2 separate regions of the Homo sapiens genome follow, and region 2 is linked to region 1. A link means that fine-mapping ties the variant in region 1 to the expression of a gene that starts in the linked region. Tissue or cell type: whole blood. Region 1 holds a variant in brackets; the other region holds the start of a gene. All regions are shown on one strand. Distances are from middle to middle.

Evidence for each region. PIP is the estimated chance that this variant, and not a neighbour inherited with it, causes the effect.
Region 2: it holds the start of CMTM3, and the variant in region 1 is fine-mapped to the expression of CMTM3 in whole blood (TOPMed, PIP above 0.99).

What each region holds. Positions count from the first base shown.
Region 1 is chr16:66,635,582-66,643,125 of GRCh38, reverse strand. CMTM4 (CKLF like MARVEL transmembrane domain containing 4) reads left to right here. Exons shown (of 4, transcript NM_181521.3): 2 at 6,545-6,721. Among named protein-coding and RNA genes, the nearest start is that of CMTM3, 35 kb to the right of the region's middle. The variant A/G (reference allele first, on the strand shown) is at 3,846.
Region 2 is chr16:66,601,932-66,607,942 of GRCh38, reverse strand. It overlaps CMTM3 (CKLF like MARVEL transmembrane domain containing 3), which reads right to left and starts at 3,239. Exons shown (of 5, transcript NM_181553.4): 1 at 2,991-3,239. The coding sequence starts at 3,137. It also overlaps a transcript of CMTM4 not described here. RefSeq lists silencers at 2,235-2,454, 2,515-3,354.

The sequences.
Region 1 (7,544 bases):
AACATGACGAAACCCTGTCTCTACTAAAAGTACAAAAATTAGCCGGCCTTGGTGGCAGGTGCCTGTAATCCCAGCTACTCAGGAGGCTGAAGCAGGACAATCACTTGAACCCGGGAAGCAGAGGTTGCACTTGCCAAGATCTCACCACTGCATTCCAGCCTGGGCGACAGAGACTCTGGCAACAAACGAAACAAAACCAAAAATTGCTATTTCATTATTGCCTGGCACAAGAAGCTGTGACAGAAAGTTAGAGTGGAAGGATGACTATTATGGTAACTTCATCAGCCAGTCCTCTCTCTTTCCTTCTCTTCCTGCTTTTAGATGCTGCCAATCATAATTTGCCACAGTTGTGGAAATCTGACAACCTGTTAATATCAATTCTGGTTTTGTTTGTTCGTTTGTTTGTTTTGGTGATGAAGTCTCCCTTCGTCACCCAGGCTGGAGTGCAGTGGCGCGATCTCGGCTCATTGCAAACTCTACCTCCAGGGTTCAAGTGATTTTCATGCCTCAGCCTCCTGCCTAGCTGGGATTACAGGCATGTGCCACCACACCCAGCTAATTTTTTGTATTTTTAGTAGAGACAGGGGTTTCACTGTGTTGGTCAGGCTGGTCTGGAATTCCTGGCCTCAAGTGATCCAACTCCCTTGGCCTCCCAAAGTGCTGGGATTACAGGTGTGAGCCACTGTACCTGGCCCAGTTTACTTATCAAATATTAAAATATTTACTCTGGTCAGTTTGTAGTTGCCACCTGGAAAGGACTCTCTCCAAGGGCATCCATAATCGCATGATTAGTAAACAAAAAAGTTTTTTCTTATATACATCTTTTTGGACATCTCTGTATAATTTGTTCACGTGACATTTGCTCACTTCAAGGTTGTTATAAGTTGAACTATTTTTGACTCTTTGGTTCCCTTGAAGTTGTTGGCTTCTAGTATCACTTTATCTGAGCCCTTCTTGGTCAATAGGTAGTTTTTATTTCAGCAGTGATTAGATTTCACTGTGCTAGAGAAAATGTTGACATTTTGCTGTGTCCAATGTCAGACAAAAAAATGTTTTGCTTGTAACAGCAGAGTATTAGAAACCATCTAAATGCCTATCAATAGGGGATCAATTAAATTGTGGTTGTGTATAGAGGTGTATATGTGTGTATTTATGTATCTGTCTATGTAATTACATATGAATACATGTAATTATTAAAAGTAACATCTATATGTGGACATACCTGTGGAAACACTATTTAGCAGAAAAAGTGGGCTGGAAAATAAGATATATAATAGGTATTTTATGGTTTAAATAGGTGTAGGTTATAACATGTTATTTTCTTATTTTGTATATAGCATTTTGTCATTTGTAGAGCCCTTTTACATATATTTTTGTTTGGATTTTGAACACAGTGACCATTTGAGATTTGGAAAGGAGGCAGGTATAATTTTATGGGTGAGAAGCTAATAGGGAAATAACATAGTGGGGCAGTAAGAACTGGAGAGACTGAGAATCAAATCTTGGCTATTACATCCTGGCACCGCTTCTTGCTATCTATATGTCACAGAACCTTAATTTCCTTATCTGTAAAATGGGGCTAATATCTACCTCATAAGGTTGTACTGGGGAACTAAATGATAAAAAACAAGAAGTGCCTATAAGGTGTTTGATTTGTATGTACCTGTAATCAATGAGTAATGAGTAGAATATTAATGTTTTATAACAACAAGAGTTTTCCCTCCCTGATATATTATTTATTGCTGCATAACTAATTACCTTAAAACTTTGTGACTTAAAACAAGACATCTTAGGCGGGCCACAGTGGCTGAGACCAGTAATCCCAGTGCTTTGGGAGGCTGAGGCGGGAGGATCTCTTGAGGCCAGGAGTTTGAGACCAGCCTGTGTGAGACCCTGTCTCTACAAAATAAAGAATTATCTGGGCATGGTGGTGTGCCCCTGTAGTTCCAGCTACTCGAAAGTTTGAGGTAGGAGGGTCACTTGAGTCTAGGAGTTCAAGGTTGCAGTGAGCTATGATTGCATCACTGCACCCCCTGGGTGACAGAGGAAGACCCTGTCTTAAAAAAGCAAACAAACAAGAATCAGATCTTTCTTTTCTTTTCATTTCTGTGTGTCAGGAATTTGGGGGGTGGCTTTGCTCTGGTTCTCTCAGGAGGTTGCAGTCAAGCTTTTGGCTAGGGCTATGTCATCTGAAGGCTTGCCTGGGGCTGGAGGACCTATGTCTAAGACGGCTTGTTCAACATGGCTGTTGGCAGGAGGCTTTAGTTCTTGGCACCTATACCTCTCCATAGGGCTGCTTGAGTACCCTCAAGACATGGCAGCTGGTTTTTCCCCATCATGAGTGGTCTAAGAGAGAGCAAGGCAGGAACCATGCTAACTTTTCTGACTGAGCCTGTGCAGTCACACACCTGTGAAGTCATTTCTGCAAGGTAATAGGTCAGCCCTATTCATTGTTGCAAGGGTCTTGTCACTCTCCTCCTGGCTTCTGCCCTTGTCCTCACTGTAGTCTGTTCTCCGCAAAGTAGCTGGTGGCCCTTTTAAGACCCAAAGGAGATCCTGCCACTCTCTGGTGCTTCCATCACACTCAGAGTGAGAGCCGCATACCTCACTGCACCCAAGCGCTCTTTGGGTCTGACCTCCCTCCTGTGATTCTCCCTAGGGGCCACCTGACCCCCTTCCCAGGGATCTCACCTTGCTCCCCACTCTGCCTCCAGTGCTCTTTCTCCAGACAGCTGTCCCTTATATGTTCGGCAACTCTGTCTCAAATAGCACCCTCCAGGGACACTCTGTCTAAACTTTATTTATTTTTATTATTTTTTTTGAGACAGAGTCTCACTCTATCACCCAGGCTGGAGTGCAGTGTAGTGGCGCGATCTCAGCTCACTGCAACCTCCGCCCCCAGGCTCAAGCAGTTCTCTTGTTTCAGCCTCCGGAGTAGCTGGGATTACAGGCGTGCGCCACCATGCCCAGTTAGTGGTTTCACCATGTTGGCCAGGCTGATCTCGAACTCCTGACCTCATGTGATCCACCCGCCTCGGCCTCCCATAGTGCTGGGATTACAGCTGTGAGCCACTGCGCCTGCCCTAAACTTTATTTTATGTTAAAATTTTTTTAGAGTCTCACTCTGTCACCCAAGCAGGAGTGCAGTGGCACAGTCTCCACTCACTGCAACTTCCGCCTCCCAGGTTCAAGGGATTCTCATGCATTAGCCTCCCTGGTAGCTGGGATTACAGGTGTGCAGCACCACATCTGGCTAATTTTTGTATTTTTAGTAGAGACAAAGTTTTGTCATGTTGGCCATGCTGGTCTGGAATTCCTGGCCTCAAGCGATCCACCCACCTCAGCCTTTTGATGTGCTGGGATTACAGGCATGTGCTACCATGCCCAGCTACTTTTTGTATTTTTAGTAGAGACAGGATTTCGCCATGTTGGCCAGGCTGGTATGGAACTCCTGGCCTCAAGCAATCCACCCGCCTCAACCTCCTGAAGTGCTGTACTCCCAAAGGGATTACAGGCATGAGCCACTCTTCCTGGTCTCTGTGTCTAAACTTTCGAACACCTTTGCCCCAGCTATGCTTTGTTCACCTTCCCTGCTTCCATTTTTCTCCTTCGTTCTTATCACTAACTCACTCTTTTTAAATGTAATTTAAAAAAAAACAACTCCTTTATTAGACTGTGAGCTAAGAGCAGGAGTTTTTGTCTGTTTTGTTCACTGCCACAACAAATGGTCTATTAGATTTGCATATCCGTGAAGCCATTTTTATGTTAATATTTAAGAATGTAGGTGTTACCTTCCCACACAAATATGGTTGAAGTTAGCATACCAGAAACATTTGTAACTCATC[A/G]GTACAGTGTGTTATTTCTTGCCCAAGATTACTAGATCTGATTACTGGGGTGAAAAAAAGGGGAAAGTTTAGGAGTTTCCCTTATGTGAACTATTTCTTTTGTGAATTGATTGCAAGTTAGGCATGTAATTCAGATGGAGAATTAAAGTCTATGGTGCAGTAGAGAATTATAAGAAGAGCTATTAGGAGAAGCACAGTGTGTATATTTAAAGACCCATATCTTTTGTGTTATTGACAAGTAAAAATCTCTATATTTACTGTGTACAGCATGATGTTTCTAAATGTGTATACAATGTGGAATGGCTCAATCCAGTGAGGTAACGTGCATTATCTCACATACTTACCTTTGTTTTTTTTTTTTGTGGTGAGAACATTTAAAATCTACTCTGTTTGTTTGTTTGCTTTTGTTTTTGTTTTTTTTGAGATGGAGTCTCACTCTGTCGCCCAGGCTAGAGTGCAGTGGCACGATCTCAGCTCACTGCAACCTCCGCCTCCCGGGTTTCAAGTGATTCTCCTGCCTCAGCCTCCCAAGTAGCTAGGATTACAGGCGCCCACCACCATGTCCATCTAATTTTTGTATTTTTAGTAGAGACGGGGTTTCACCGTGTTAATCAGGCTGGTCTCGAACTCCTGACCTCAGGTGATCCACCTGCCTCAGCCTCCCAAAGTGCTGGGATTACAGGCATGAGCCACCACACCCAGCCTAAAATCTCCTCTCAACAATACAATGCAATACATTGTTGTTGACTAAGTCACCATGTTGTACAATAGATCTCTTGAACTTATTCTTCCTGTCTAACTGAAATTTTGTATCCTTTGACCAAGAAGACCCATGTCTTTAATGTGTTGACTTAGAAAAGACCACATATTGTTAGGAAAGAGGTTCTGTGTAGAAGTATTGACAATGGGAAAGGCAGAACCACTCTTCCATTCGCCTGAAGACACTGACCAGGCAACCAGGAATTGTAGATGTGGGTTTTCTAATGGCTCATTCAGCCCCCATCTGCCAGCTATGTGAAAGTTACTGTGCTTGGTGCCTTGGGGGTAGATGGGGATGGACTACCCTGCCCCCTAAAAGCTCCGGAGGCAGAGGCTGCAAGATGGTAAGGATAGAATGCAATCACAGATGAACCAGCTTTCCTGGGAGAGGGTGGGATAAGCTGATGTCTGGCAGGGAGAAGCAGTCAGGGAAGACATGGGGAGGAGGTGGCGGCATCATCAAGTGGAGCATTGGAAAGCATGAGTAGGACTTTCAGCAGGTGGAGAAAGGCCCCAGAACAGCCCGTGCCTTGGATGCTGCTGGCATTTTAATCATCTGAAGATCTCATCAGAAAGCAGATTCTGATTCTGTAGTTCAAGGGGAGGAAGCAGAGATTCTGCATTTCCCACAAGCTCTAAAGGACAAGTCTCTAGAGGACCACAGAGCTGCCTGCCTCTGCTTCCTTGACTTTTGAGGTGGAGGCCAGCCTGGAAGCAGCGGCATAGGCTTCAGATGCCACTGAACTGGGCGGAGCGGGAGCCTGAGACTGATCTGGCTTTAGGTGCTCGAAACCTTTCTTTGATCACAGGGCCATTAACTCCGCCTTTGGGCCTCCTCCTTCTCCTGAAATCCCCCTTTAAAAGTTCACTTGGTAATTTCTATCAATATCTATTTGATTTTATGATCTATGAACTCTTAGGACATATTGCCAGAATGGTACTTTGGTCCTTCAGAAAAAAATTTATTCTTTTTTTTTGAGATGGAATTTCGTTCTTGTTGCCCAGGCTAGAGTGCAATGGCGCGATCTCAGCTTACTGCAACCTCTACCTCCCAGGTTCATGCGATTCTCCTGCCTCAGCCTCCTGAGTAGCTGGGATTACAAGCATGCGCCACCACACCCGGCTGATTTTGTATTTTTAGTAGAGAGGGGGTTTCTCCATGTTGGTCAGGCTGGTCTTGAACTCCAGACCTCCGGTGATCTGCCAACCTTGGCCTCCCAAAGTACTGGGATTACAGGCATGAGCCCCCGTGCCCAGCCTAGAAATTTATTCTATTATTGGTAGATTTCTTAATGTTTTTTAATAAGCTGCCATCTTGTTGTGATCAAGTTCAAAAAATATATTTTTTAAAACCATATGAATTAATTAGGTGCGCCTCTTGTTCCCACCTAATTGGGGGAAAAGGAGATTATACCAATCATTGTTTTAAAGCCGTCAGGAGTCCCAGTTAACCTGTGTGACTTTAGCAGGAGCCACCAAGGTAACTGCAGATGGCACAAGTCAGACACCATCAGAATTCTGCTCTCCCAGTGTTTGGGATAATTGTGGTAGAGACCATGAATTAGAAACACACATAGGCAACACCCACTTACTTATTGGTGGCAGGAGAAGACCTAGAAACATTGTAGAGATGTTTCTGCTTCCTCCCAAGGGCCAGCAGTTTACACCCGGGGGCCACATCACACCAGATTGATTTCAGTGTATGTGGTGGGGCCTTCACTGTTTACATTAGTAATTTGATCCTTCCATTAAGACCCCTGCACCTATTCTTTAGGTAAGAATTGAAGCAGGTCTGATTTCCGACAGTTACACTGCTGTCCCAGAGGAAAACTCAGTGGCAGTATGTTGTTGTTCAGTGTTATATAAGCATGGCAGGTACGTATGTCCGCAGATGTATACTAAACATATACGTACATATATGTTTCCAATTTTCTTCCTAGATCTTGGCCCTGATTGCATTCATCTGCATAGAGACCATCATGGCATGCTCCCCGTGTGAAGGCCTCTACTTTTTTGAGTTTGTGAGCTGCAGTGCGTTTGTGGTGACTGGCGTCTTGCTGATTATGTTCAGTCTCAACCTGCACATGAGGATCCCCCAGATCAACTGGAATCTGACAGTGAGTACAAGCGGCCACTCTGGCCATGAAAGGATCACGTGCCTGTTGGCTCCAAGGAAAAGCTGGAATCTCTCCAGGTCATGTTTGGTTCTAGTTCATTTTGATCCTTAAATATTCTATTATAATTCAACTGTGAAATTTTAAATTTCTTTACTGGGTTAAGTAAAACTACAAAATAAACTGAATCTTAACTAATGGGAGAAACATCATAACAATTATTTTGGCCACCTTAAAGATGTCATTTCAATTTTGCAATCATCTGAGAAGACTGGTCATGTTGATATTTGGAGAATATGGGAAATAAAATACAGTGTAGACATTTACATACTTTTCAGACTGGACCTAAAAGCCATTTATAAAAATATTGATTCTGGAAGAATTGAAAATATGAATGAAAATGCCAGTAACTTACAGAGCCTAGGAATATTATTAAATTCAAAGCAACTAGGAGGACCTGGGGGGGTTTGGTGGTTTGATCAGAAAGTCTTGAGTGGAAACCTGCCCCTTCTCCCCATGGTTTGGGTTCTTAGCTCTGTTTGGCCACCCTTGTTAATCAGATGGGAAGCACAGGGCTGGTCAGTCCTAGACCCCCTTTCCTAGACTGTGTCCTTACTGTGCTGAATGAGAAGAGGATTTTAATATCATTTGGTTTTCTTGATATTTATTTACAAATTAGCATGTGCAAGAGCTCAAAGGGAGTCAGTCAGGGAGATCCACGTAAGCACAGTCGGCTGCCTCACACTGCTGTGCCTGTGGGATGAGAACGCCGTGGGCACCTCAGCTGCTGAGGGGGAAGCAGGAGGAGAGCGCCTCAGACCAGCTA
Region 2 (6,011 bases), 34 kb after region 1:
GCCCGGGGAGGTCGAGGCTGCAGTGAGCTGTGATCAGGCCACTGCACTCCATCCTGGGTGAGAGAGAGAGAGACCCTGTCCGCACCCGCCCCTACAAAAAAAAAAAACCCAGCATGGCCCAGGCTCACACCTATGCTGCCTCCCAGTCCTGGGCATGGCCCTGAGTCCTCACCTTACCCCACCCCAGCTCCCTGACAGGACCTAGTCAGAAAGCCCCAGCCTTCCAAGCACATGCACTCCACTCAGTGCCCTGCGGAGGGAAATCAAAGCGAGGCAGGAACCAGTTTCCAAAAAGTAACACCCAACACCAAAGACGTGTGCTCGTCACTGAATGTAGATTTCACCTTGAAAAGAAAAAACCTTGAACCTTAATGATATGCGTCCTGAAGTGTTCAGAGTTGAAATGTCCTGATGTCTGCAATTTATTTTGTGTTAAAAGATAAAATGCCTTGATGGACAGATAGATAAAGCAAAAAAATCTTTTGGAGTTTTAATGTATTTGCAAATTTTCATAATGATAAGAAAGGAACATCTAACAGAGGGTGCGTTGGCACTGACACCTCAGGCCCTGCTGCCTTATTCATACAGGGCCAGCTGTGAAAGGTGGGGCCAGCTGTACTTGAACTACAAGAATCAAAATGTTCACTGTGGTCTTGCCCACAACTCTGTAGGTGGGAAGAGCTGATGCAGGAGGATGTTGAGCCCTGGGCAGTCCTGCAGCCCAGGTACGCTGCAGAGCAGGCCAAGGTGACCTGTTGGCCAGCCTGGGGCTCCACAGTGCCTGGTACCCTGAGGCTCACGGGCATCTCCTCTGACCCTCACATCCACCCATGAGCACAGCCCCACTTGACAGATGAGAAGACTCTGTCACATGGCTAATCAGAGGCTACTAGAATTTGAACCCAGGGCTGGCTGACCCCCCAGATAGAGTTATCTTACCTCCGCCCCAGAGATGGAGTCTTGCTCCGTCTCCCAGGCTGGAGTGCAGTGGCACGATCTCAGTTCACTGCAACCTCCACCTCCGGGGTTCAAGTGATTCTCCTGCCTCAGCCTTCCCGAGTAGCTGGGATTACAGGCGCCCGCCACCAAACCCAGCTAATTTTTTTATTTTTAGTAGAGACAGGGTTTCACCATGCTGGCCAGGCTGGTCTCGAATTCCTGACCTCAGGTGATCCACCCACCTCGGCCTCCTAAAGTGTTGGGATTACAGGCATGAGCCACCACGCCCGGCCCAGGTAGAGTTCTTAAGCAACTTGGCCCTGTGGGTGTTGGGGAGGCCATCTGTCCCTGGTTTCTGTCACTGTGGCTGCGTTTGAACATGTCTATGGCTGAGTAGTTTCTAGTGGGTGCAGGAGTCCCCATGGGGACACCCAGATGCCCCACAGGAAGCACTGTGGCTGCTTCAGACAAATGAACTGCAGGGATCCCAGGGGGTCCCCAGAGCACCCCCATTTGCTCTGCACATGGCCTTGGGTGCAGCTGAGCCCCCTTTGGAAAGATAGACTAAGGCATAGAGACGGGCTGGGAGGCTGCTGGGGCCTCCCAGGAAGGCCTTCCATGGGACTGACCCAGCTCTGGCCCTCCCCTTCCTGTCTCCTATGCCTGCACCCCAAAGCCTAATTCTGGGGATTCCCCTCTCAATTCCTGTTTTTTCATCCCGCGATTTCTGGGGCCACTTCCTCTCTCTGTTTCTGTCCATCTCAGCCTCTGCACTTGCTTGGCCTGGGGGTGGGAGTGAGGGGACTAGGGAGGCAGGAGTGCCCTCAGCGGCTCCTGTGAACCCTGAGTGCTGACCGTTCACCCTTCCTTATCCTCCCTGACCTGGATTCCTGACATCTGCTGGGCCCAGGGTGGCCTCTATGCTCCTGCTGGACATATGCCTCCCTCTTATGAGGTGGTCTTGGGTGGGGATGGGGGGGTTCAAGCCACTCTGGGGACGGTGGATTCGAGGCTTCTCCCCTCAAGTGGCTCCCAGTGGTCTCCAGGGTGGGGCTGGGAGTGTGGGCTCGGAGTGTGGCATTGGTGTCTCACTTGGGCGTTGGGCAGGTGGCCTCTGGGCTGACCGTGGGAGAGGCTGCAGGACCACCTTCTGCCCTCTGCCCTGAGTGACCAGGGAGAGGTCCCGGAGCAGAATCCCCCTTCCTCCTGCCCCCACCCTCCTGGCCGCTCTCACTGGGCCCCTCAGTTGAGCCACCTGTCAAATCAGGCGCCTGAGCGCTCTCATCTGTAAAGTGGGGACAAGGGCAGGAAGCGCCAAGTTCCTGGGATCTAAGCAACAAGTGGCCGCCGCCGTGCGCCGCTCTCTCCTCCCGCCTCCCCCGGTCTCCGGCCCGGCCTCTCCCTCCCCATCCCCAACGGCCCAGCGCCACCCCTACCCCACAGCGGACAGTGCGGGCGCCTCCGGTGTCCAGAGGACAAAGAAGCCCCACCGGCCGGGGTGGGGGCGAGGGCGGAGTAGGAAGGAGCCCGGCCGCGGAGGGGAGGAGGGCGATGAAGTCACCGCGGGGCCGCCTCACCCAGTCCCGGGGGTGGGGGATCCCTCCCGCTCCGCACGGCCCCCCGCCGGCTCGGCCCCGCAGGTCGAGGCCCCGGCCCGCACTACCCGCTCGCAGGAAAGCGGACCCCGCTGCGGCCCGGGAGTCCCGGAGGTCCGAGTTGCCCGAGTCCCCGGGGCCCAGAGAGGGCGGGGGCGCCTGGCTCACACAGCAGGACCCACATCCCCGGGCCCCACCCACTTCCCACGGCCCCCAGCTCTGGACTCGCGGGGACAGCGCCGCGGATGGCCTGGGCTCGGGCCCCGCCCCGCCGTCCAAAGTTTGGGGACCTCGACCCAACTTCGCCAGGCGCCCGAGAGAAGTCGGCCGAGGCGGCGCGGAGAGGGGGTATCGGAGCACGGCGGCCGCCCCCGGACCCCACCCGCGCCCCGACGTCCTCCTCCGAAAGGAGCCGCGCAGTCCTAGCGGGGCGGCCGAGGGTCCCGCCGCACTCACCGACTCGGCCAGCAGGAGGCGGCCTTTGAGAGAGCAGAGGAAAGCCCGCGCCGGCAGCAGGGCGCGGAGCCCGGGGACCGCGGGGCCGGGACGGGAGCCGCCGGCAGGCTCGGGGTCCGGGTCGGGGTCGGGGTCTGGGGGCCACATGGCGGCGGCGGCGGTAGGGCCGGGGCTCGGCCTGGCTCCCCTCTTCTCGCGCCCGGAGGGAAGCGGAAACCCGGGCTGTGCGGAAGGAGGGCAGGCGACACTGGCTCGCGCAGGGGCGCATCCCCCGCCGCCACGCCCCGCCCCGCCCCCACCCGCTCCTCCAGCCCGCCCCTCCCCCTCGGACCCCGGCTGCGGGGGATGCTGGGCCCGACCCGCCCCCTCCCCGGCCTGGGGCCTCCGCAGACTCCACCTTCTTCTTCACCCTGGTTCGGGCCGCTGGAGACCTCCCGATCACCGCCCCGGCACCCCTTCGGAGCTCCCACCCGTCTGCCCCTATCCAGAAGGGCTGTCTATACTCGCTGTCTCCGGTCTAACTTCCTGCCCGTGCGCGTGTCTGGGATCCGGGAACCCAGGCGTCTAAACAGCAAAGACCCCGGCCGTGATGTCGGCTCCGCAACCCATGCCCTCTCTTTTTCTTGGGGGCCGGAGTTTTCTTGCGACTTTCTTGGCCACCCCTCCTGTCCCCGGCCAGCCCCACCCTCCTCCAGGGCCTCTTTGTTGGCTGTTCCAGGCCTCGGTCCTGCACCCGCCTCCCCCAACCCATTCTCAGAGGACTCTCAGACCTGCAAGCGCAGCTCCAGGCACACACACAGACACACACACACGCGCGCGCGCGCGCAAACACACACAGGCACGCACATCTGCAGGACTTCCTGACCTGCAGTCCCCCCACCCCAACACATCTCTCTCTCTCACACACACACACACACACACTCCACACGCACATGCGTGCACATCTAGAGAGCGTCTGGAGTTCAGCGTGATCAAGACCCAGCTTCCTGTGCCTCTGCGAAGGGCACTGCCCCCTCCTTTCCTTCCACCTGACTAGCGGAGACCTGCGGGTTGTCCTTGTCCCTCTTCACCGGCAGTCTGTAACCAAGGTCCTCCCACTTTCACCTCCTATAACTTTCTCTGATCTCTGTCTACTTCTCACCACCACTAGATCCGAAACCATTCCTGCCTGCTCCCCGCTGAACTGCTGTGATGGTGTCTTTAAGAGGCCCTTAGGTTTTCTCTCTGGGCAGCCGGGGGAGAGCTTATGGCACAGTACTGCGCACCCTTGACATAACTAACTCCATCTTAGAAAAAGACTTCATTTTATATTTCATAGGGTGCTTTGCCAACAAGGGCAAGATGTTTTGTTTAATAAAAAATAGAAGGTCAGGCGCTGTGGCTCATGCCTGTAATCCCAGCACGTTGGGAGGCTGAGGTGGGTGGATCACGAGGTCAGGAGTTCGAGACCAGCCTGGCCAATATAGTGAAACCCCGTGTCTACTAAAAATACAAAAATTAGCTGGGCGTGGTGGCACCGTGCCTATAATCTCAGCTACTCAGGAGGCTGAGGCACAAGAATCGCTTGAACCCGGGAGGCATAGGTTGCAGTGAGCCAAAATCACACCACTGCACCCCAGCCTGGGCGACAGAGCAAGACTCTGTCTCAAAAAATAAAAAAAAAAATAAATAAAGACTGCGTCCAACCACATAAGGACACAAAGAAGCACACTGTTCCTCTACCATTTCTCACCAGAGCACTCTGTGACTACAAAACAGCAGCCCAGCAGCCTTAACTGACAACCATCCCACTGCCGTTCATAAGAACTCTGCATCTGCCTCCCAAGGCTCTGCCCCTCAAAGACTCTGCAAGACCCTCAAGCCCAGACCAGGATTCCTTTTGTCTTCTTCCTTACCCTGGAACTGGTTCCTTAACCCTTTCTCCTATCTCTTTTTCTCTTGATGTTAAATGCTACTTTGTTTGTTGTGGAATGTTTATAACATTTACATGTGGATTAAGTATACTATTATATATGGTTTGCAATATTGACTGACTTGTGGAGTGGCTTGAGCCCATGTGCTCACTACTGAGTGAACGGGAAGTACTAAGGAAAATTGGCTCCTTGGGTCTGGGTGCAGTGGCCCATGCCTATAATTCCAGCATTTTGGGAGGCTGAGGCAGGCAGATCACCTGAGGTCAGGAGTTCGAGACCAGCTTGGCCAACATGGCGAAAACCCATCTCCACTAAAAATACAAAAATTAGCTGGGCGTGGTGGCACAGGCCTGTAACCCCAGCTACTTGGGAGGGTGAGGCATGAGAATCACTTGAACCCAGAAGGCAGAGGTTGCAGTGAGCTGAGATCGCACCACTGCACTCCAGCTGCACTCCAGCCTGGGCGGCAGAGTGAGACTCTGTATGAAAGAAAAAAGAAGAAGAAGAAGAAGAAGCAAATTGGCTCCTTGGGATAGCTTGTGGCTTTTGTTTTTTTTTACCCTTGGGTATAGGGTGAATAAAAATCTGACACTGTGGAAAGACACAAACACGTGTGGACCTAGTTATCTCTTTTTTCTTTCTTGAGACAGAGGCTTGCTCTGTCACCCAGGCTGGAGTGCAGTGGCATGATCTTGGCTCACTGCAACCTCCACCTCCCAGATTCAAGGGATTCTCATGCCTCAGTCTCCCAAGTAGCTGGGATTACAGGCCTGTGCCACCACACCCAGCTAATTTTTGTATTTTTAGTAGAGACAGGGTTTTGCCATGTTGGCCAGGCTGGTCTTGAACTCCTGGCCTCCAACAATCTTCCCGCCTCGGCCTCCCAAAGGTTTGGGATTACAGGCGTGAGCCACCGCACCTGGCCAGACCTGATTATCTCTTGACCTTGTACCACTCATGACAATCACCAGTCATTGATCACTTTTGATGGCAGCCGTGGCTCCAGACAACCTGCTGCTATCATCACCCAGCTGCAGCAGGGAGGCATGGCCTGGGCTGCACACTCCATGGAGCAGGCAGGAGTCCTGCTCTCCCAGGTGCAGCTGCA